Homo sapiens: one gene and its partner. The protein of the gene in region 1 purifies or fractionates together with the protein of each later gene. This does not show direct contact. Each region holds a gene or a part of one and is shown on either strand. Other genes may lie near its edges.

The links. Proteins that work in one complex are often made in the same cells at the same time.
Region 2: the proteins of TRPV5 (region 1) and ANKMY2 purify together in Homo sapiens (affinity purification with mass spectrometry; one large-scale study listed by BioGRID and IntAct). This does not show direct contact.

What each region holds. Positions count from the first base shown.
Region 1 is NC_000007.14:142,909,642-142,913,300, forward strand, and holds part of TRPV5 (transient receptor potential cation channel subfamily V member 5), read right to left. Parts: intron 3,110-3,659; coding exon 2,841-3,109; intron 1-2,840. UniProt on the Homo sapiens protein: Constitutively active calcium selective cation channel thought to be involved in Ca(2+) reabsorption in kidney and intestine. Required for normal Ca(2+) reabsorption in the kidney distal convoluted tubules.
Region 2 is NC_000007.14:16,621,596-16,625,254, reverse strand, and holds part of ANKMY2 (ankyrin repeat and MYND domain-containing protein 2), read left to right. Parts: intron 1-173; coding exon 174-272; intron 273-3,659. UniProt on the Homo sapiens protein: May be involved in the trafficking of signaling proteins to the cilia.

The DNA.
Region 1 (3,659 bases):
AGGTTCAAAGAGGCACTGAGGCCACTGATAAAGGGAACCAAAGGCAATCTGTGAGATAGGACACTAGAGGTCAGTGGTGAGAACAGCCACCTATTCACCCCACAGCCTGTGCCAGGCACCATGCAACCAGCTTCACTCATCAAGAAATGAGAGAGGATTTTTTGTGAGTGTTTTGAATAAAATAGTTGCCCTTACATTACTATTCACTCATGGAGAATGAGTCACTCCAAACTAATCTCAACTTCTTTTTCATATAAAAGCCACAGACCAATTATCTCGATTTAAATAAAATGATTAAAGAGAATCTCTACGATCTTGGGGATGAATTGATACTGTTACTGTTCAGGGAATTTTCAGCAAATTAAATATCCACATCTTAGGAAGGAAAAGGGTTGATTAATGACTGCAAGTTGGCAGGGAAATTTCTGGTAGCAAGTCCACCACACGTTCTGTCCTTTGCTCAGCCCTCATTAATTACTTAGATGAAACATGGGAAACAAGCTTATCAAATATGCCTGTGACACAAAACTGGGAGGGATATGTAATATGTGGGGCAACAGAAGCAATATAAAATTATCTCGCTAGATTGGAATGCTGGTGTAAAATCATTAACAAGAAATTTAAGTAAACCAAATCTAAGGTCCTATATTTACATTTAGGAAGCTTAGATAAGTGAGTCATAGAACAAAGGTGTGGGAGTGCTAGCTGATCACAAGCTTAATAAGGGCCATTTGTATATTTGCTAAAAGACCTGACTCAGCTTTAGGTACCCTTAGCATTATGTCCAAGTAAGGAAAGGCATAGTCCCGCTTTGTACCGCATTGCCCTAATCATACTGGGGACTATTCTAGTTTCAAAGAAACCATGATCTATTAGAGCATGGACAAAAGGGTGCAATCAGAATAGATCAGAACCAGGAAGGCTTCCTAATTGAAGGAGTGCAATCTTCAAAATAGCAAATTCTTCACCTCATGTTTTTCTACTCCCTATCTTCCTCATTACTCCACACTTCTTTCAGTTTCTTAATTGCACCAAGTTCCCTCCTAGCTCAGGACTTCCAGTCATTCTGTGCTCTTACCCTGGATAGCTGTTCTTCTTTGCCTTGAAAGAAATGTTTATTGTTCCTCCTGAGCCATCATGCAGCCCCGTCCTTCCTCGGGTAACAGCACCCATTTTTCATTTAGGGAATTGCTCCCTCATCACTTTTAGTGCATTGGTTTGAGTGGACTGGGCTTCACACAGTTGTGCTTAATTAATCTATTTTCCCCCAAACCTCCCCTCCACCACCATCACCAACACCTCCACTATCTAGTCCTTGGTCTTTCCTTAGATTCAACGATGTGCCTATGACCCGAATGTGTTCCCATGAGATGGAACATGGAAGGAATTGGCAGGGGGAAAGATGTTCTTTTAAAGCCTGCAGTTTTGCCTGGCACCAGGAGCCTCACAGAATACAACGTGAGTGGGGCCCTCGGAGCTGCGTGTTGCATTGCACATCCTCATTCTTTTTGGAGTTTGGAGCTTCTAGAAATGATCTCACAAACACGATGGGAGAGCTTGCCTTAGAAGAGAGGTCAAAAGAGAGCCGAACAGAGGAATGGATGTAATGTATAAGATGTGGATCTGCATTCTGGCCAGATACCTCTAAAGTTAGTTTAATTCTCTAAACTTCCCATTTATGAGGACTAACACATCCTCTTCCCCCTGTTTAAAAATCTGCAAGTCTGTTTGAGTTTGGTTTTCTGTCCCTGTAGCCAAGAGTCCTAATTGCTACTAACCTTGACCTTCATCCTTTTCCCTCCTTCCTTTTAACTACCTAGTTCTTGCTCACCTTTGGGTTCTCATCTTAAATGTTGCTCCCTCAGGAAAGCATGTCTTCACTTCCCAGTCCGATTCCTCTGTTGTATCCTCCTCTTAGCACCTTACATTCTCTATAGCACTTTTGCTGCTGTAATTTTACAGCTTTTTGTGAAGTCATTCACTTCATGCCCGTCTTTCCAACTAAACCGTCAGCTCCATGAGGGCACATATGGTGTCTGTTGTGTTTATGCTCATGTCCCTAGCTCCTAGGCATTTGTCAACACATAGCAGGGTCTAAATGATCATCATTAAATGAATGAAAAGTCTAAGGGAAAAATGATGGCTATATTCAAATATTTGAATGGTGCTTATATGGAAGAATGTGTTCTGTGATATATGAGAGGGAAAGACTGGCGCCAAAGAATGAAATTTTAAGAAGATAGGTTTTAGCTCAATGCGACATAAATGTCTAATAACAAAATCTTTAAAAATATGGGAAAACTCCCTTCCTCCCAACCTCTACCTGAATTTGCAAGATAATAAGGTACTAATCAGCATTAGAGAAGATATTGAATGACATTCTGACCAATAAATGATTATTATGTTAAGTAGGAGGTCAACTTGAGGGCCATTGAGGGTCACTTCTAATTCTAATATTTATCAGTCTATGGTGATATAAAGAAAAGATCATAGAGAAACAGGGATTTACAGAAGCAAATAGAAGATAAGATCCAAATTGAAAACTGGAATATACCAGAACAAGGTCACTTCTAGTTCCCACTGGACTCAAGGATCAATCCTAGGTCTACTTTTCCCCTGTGAGCAACAACCCCACCTCTTGCCACTATCGTCCATTTAATCCTCCTTCTGTCCCTTCCATTTATCCACATGTACCTCAGGTTTACACAAACCTCTTCTGAGGTGACAGCCTCACTGGGTTTTTCTGTGACTCTTTTAAGAATGATCCACCATAACATTTTCCACTTTGATTTTTCTCTCCAACCCCTGCTTCTTAGCAAGACTAACACAAATAAACTCACCTGGGCCCTCCAGAGCTCATCCCTCTCCTGGGCCACCCTCCAGTGGGTGTCGCCCATCATGGCGATGAACAAGTTGAGCATGAGCAGTGTGGCAATGATGGTGAAGGCGAAGTTGACAATGCTGAACATGAAGGGCAAGTCCACGTCGTAGTTGGCAGGTGCATCAATAACAGTGAGAAAAAGCTCAAAGGTGGTGAACAGTGCCATGGGGTAGTCATAGAATTGCCCCAGACTGGTTGGGTCCTCTGTCTGGAAAATGATATAGAACGCTGCTCCGCCCAGGAAGAGGACATGGAGATGGGATAATGGAGTTATCACAATAAGCATGGACATGGTTAGCACTTATTCTATCTCTGATCTATCTATCTATCTATCTATCTATCTATCTATCTATCTATCTAAATACACTTGCACACATGCACAGATAATTACATACTAATAAATGTAGTTTCCTGTGGAACTGTCTAACCCTAAGATGTCCTATGATTAAGTTCACCACTCTGGGTAATGGTCATGGTAATAGTCATTTAACAACAACAAAATTGTGTGTGCAGCGTGTGTGTTTGTATGGATAATGGATAATAGGTCACCTAACTGGTTTTTGCATTTTAGAAAACCAAATACTTAAAAGGCAAGTTATTACAAGAATGTATGGAATCCTCAACAATTTTTAAAGAACAGAACACATGAACAGGCTAAAAGAAGAGCCCCTTTTTTAATCTTGATGGCCTCTAGATAACCCTCCATCACTCTGACCTTCCCTGAGTGAACCTGAACCAACATAGGAAACGGATTCCTGCTTAGGGTGGAGCCTACTGG
Region 2 (3,659 bases), about 130 Mb from region 1:
ATAGCATTTTATTCTTTACTGTAGTTAGGATTCATGTTTTAAAAGAATGAAAATATCCACATGACAGAAACCTAAAACTAACTGGGGGAATAAAGGGTATAGAGAGTTTAGAAAGGGATGTTTAAATTGTGTCCTCCTTAACATTAACAAATGTGTTCCCTTTAAAACTCTAGGTAATAAAGACATCACATGGGTAATGTTAGAAGCTGGTGCTGAGACAGATGTTGTCAACTCTGTGGGAAGAACAGCAGCTCAGATGGCAGCCTTTGTGGGTGAGATTTTGCTGCAGTTTTGCATTAGATTATACCCAAAATTTCCCTTGTGGAAAAAAAACCCACTTTGCTTCTCATGGTGAAAATATTATCATGTTGCTTTAAAAAAACTTAAGTATTTACAGTCCACTGTAACTTAATGAAACACCTAGTGACTCTGGAGAAAACAAATGGCTATTTCGAATTTCCACTTTTTCAAATACAAAGAGTAGTGGGGCCATTGTAATTGCTCACAAATGCTTATAACATGTATATTTTATGTCTCTGATGGAAGTAGCTAACCCTAATGTTTAAGAATGCTAACCGAGAAGTCAGTAATCCCAAGTTAAATTTTGGCTGTGCCACGTGATAGCAAAGTACTTAATAATTCTGACCTTCAGTTTCCTCATGGTAAAATGTTACAGGGTTATTGTGAGGATTAAAAGAGGTGATAGACTTGAACTTTCCATGTAACACTAAATAAATGGTATTAGTTACTGTTGTTAATAATTATTACAACAATGACATAACTCTTAGGAAAGAGTACTTGATAATAATATACAACTACTTCGTTATCATTCTCATCAACCACAGACGTTTATTTTGTGTGCCCAATAATTCTTGGCATGTTAATCCTATTGCTTGACATAATGTAAGGAAAGAGTGGGAGTGAATTCTTGTTCTTTGGTATTTTGACACCATTGAATTGGTGGTGAAGAGAGTCCACTGAGAGAAAAGCAAAGAGCAACGTCTGATTTATTGGGAGTGCAGTAAGTGGCCGTATAGGGACTAATAATTCATTAAACAAATAATGTTCACAACCTATAAAGCAAGCATCACTGTAGGTGTCTTGGTTATAGTGACAAGACAGGCTGTTCATACTTTCTTGGCACTTAAAGGGTAATAGCAATGACAAATGGTGCGAAAACACATACTCCAAGGTAGAACTTCAGAGCTCCATAAAAATACATAGAAGAGGAGGATCTGTCCAATTCAAGGGGGTTTTGAGAGAAGTCAGGTTCAGATACAGTGTAAATTAGGTGTGGAGGATAGTAACTGAATATTATGTTAAATTTTATTAGAACATTTTCTTGAAACTACTAATAGAAGCTGCCATTGATTAAGCCAGACACTCAGTTGCTTTATGACAGCTTTTTCTGTTAGAAGAAGTATCCTTATTTTCATTTCAAAAGGACTTGAGAAAGGTATGGCCTTGTGTAAGCTTCGGAGAAATATTTTAACTCCCGTGTGTACAGGCCCCAAGTTGCCCCATCTCAGTTCTGAGCTAATTTTGAGGGTGTCACTGCAGGGGGAAAGAACACTAAAGTAGGAATCTGGAGACTTGAACTTTAGTTCATGTGTGCTGATAATTAGTTATAGGATCACGGGCAAATTCCTTTACCTCCATAGGCCTCAGTTTTCTGATCTGTATGCAAAGAAGCAGGGGAATTAGGTGATCTCTGAACTTCTATTTAACTGTACAAGTTTTCATTATATCCACAATGTAACAAAATATTGCTCAGATACAGGTAAAAAAATTTCCCAAGATCACAGGTCTGGAAATGGAGGAGTCTCTTCTTTCAGGCATTAACACAATGCTCCTTTCTTTTTCTTAACACTACAATACTAACAAAATTTTTACTACAGTAAAAATTGTTTGCAATCCTATCCTAAAATAAGAGTAATGTTTTCATTCCATTTTAATATATTTAACTGATTTCACAGACAGAAAATTACATTGCACCCTTCCAGTTGTTACTGTATTTTCCAAATAATTAGCCTTTAAAAAAGCTCATTCTCCCCTTTTTGTTTCCTTCAAGTGGATCAGTATGTATACATGCGTACATACATACATAAGATTTTTGTCATTTTTTAAAAATGCCACCCATCACACAGCAGATATTCCTTGTAGCTTGTTTTCTTCACTTACTAATACATCATGGAAGTTCCTCCCATCTCAGTAGGTGTAATTCATTTCCTTCAACAGCTATATGATACTCCATGATATAGATGTTCCACAGTTCAGTTAGCTCTCCCTTATTGACAGATTTTACAGTTTTTTAACCACTTTTCTACAAATAATGTAATAATCATCCTTGATTTTCTATGTTTTACAAGTTAGTACTTGAATATTTTTTACATGTTAGAACTTTAATATCTCTAAAGTATTTCTTAGAAGTAAAATTGCTGAGACAAAGGATATAGAGTTTTTATTTTTATTTATTTATTTATTTATTTATTTATTTATTTATTCATTTATTTTTGAGATGGAGTCTCGCCCTGTCGCCCAGGCTGGAGTGCAGTGGCCCAACCTCAGCTCATTGCAACCTCCGCCTCCCGGGTTCAAGTGATTCTCCTGCCTCAGCCTCCCAACTAGCTGGGATTATAGGTGTGCGCCACCACGCCTAGCTAATTTTTTTTGTATTTTTAGTAGAGATGGGGTTTCACCATGTTGGTCAGGCTGGTCTTGAACTCCTGACCTTGTGATCTGCCCGCCTCGGCCTCCCAAAGTGCTGGGATTACAGCCACCACGACCAGCCTAGAGTTTTAATTTTAATGTAAGTCTAGATTCCTTTCCAAAAGGGCATAGTAATTCACAGTAATATCCTCATCAGAGCTGAGTATTACCATTCTTTGATTTTTGCCACTCTGATAGTTAAAAAGATGGTACATTGTGAACTTACTTTCCCCTCATTATTTATGAAATTAAGCACTTCTGTTGTTGGTAATTTGTATTTTCACTTTTGTGGATTACCCACTTATACTCTTTATTCATTTTTTTGTGGGGGGATGCCCTTTGTTATTGCTTTGAGGAGCTTTATGCATACAAATCCATTATCTAACAAATGTGTTTCAAATATTTTATGCCAGTCCTCCTCTTCCTCCTCCTCCTCCTTCTTCTTCTTCTTTTTATTCCTCTTCTTCCTCCTCCTCTTCCTCTTCTTCTTCTTCCTTCTTTCTTCTTCTTCTTTTTTAACTTTATGGAGACCTTTACCATAGGAAATTTATTTATTTATTTATTTATTTATTTTTTTGAGATGGAGTCTCACTCTGTCACCCAGGCTGGAGTGCAGTGGCATAATCTCGGCTCACTGCAACCTCCACCTCCTGGGTTCAAACGATTCTCCTGCCTCAGCCTCCCATGTAGCTGGGACTACAGGTATGTGCCACCACACCCAGCTAATTGTTGTATTTTTAGTAGAGATGGGGCTTAGCCATGTTGGCCAGGCTGGTCTCGAACTCTTGACCTTAGGTGATCGTCCCACCTCCCAAAGTCCTTAGGATTACAGGCATGAACCACTGTGCCCGGCAGGAAATTTATTTTTAAGTAGTCATATTTTTTCTTTTATAGCTTCCGTGTTTCTTGTTTTGCTAAAAGTGGGCCTCTTGACCAGGAGTTACATAAGT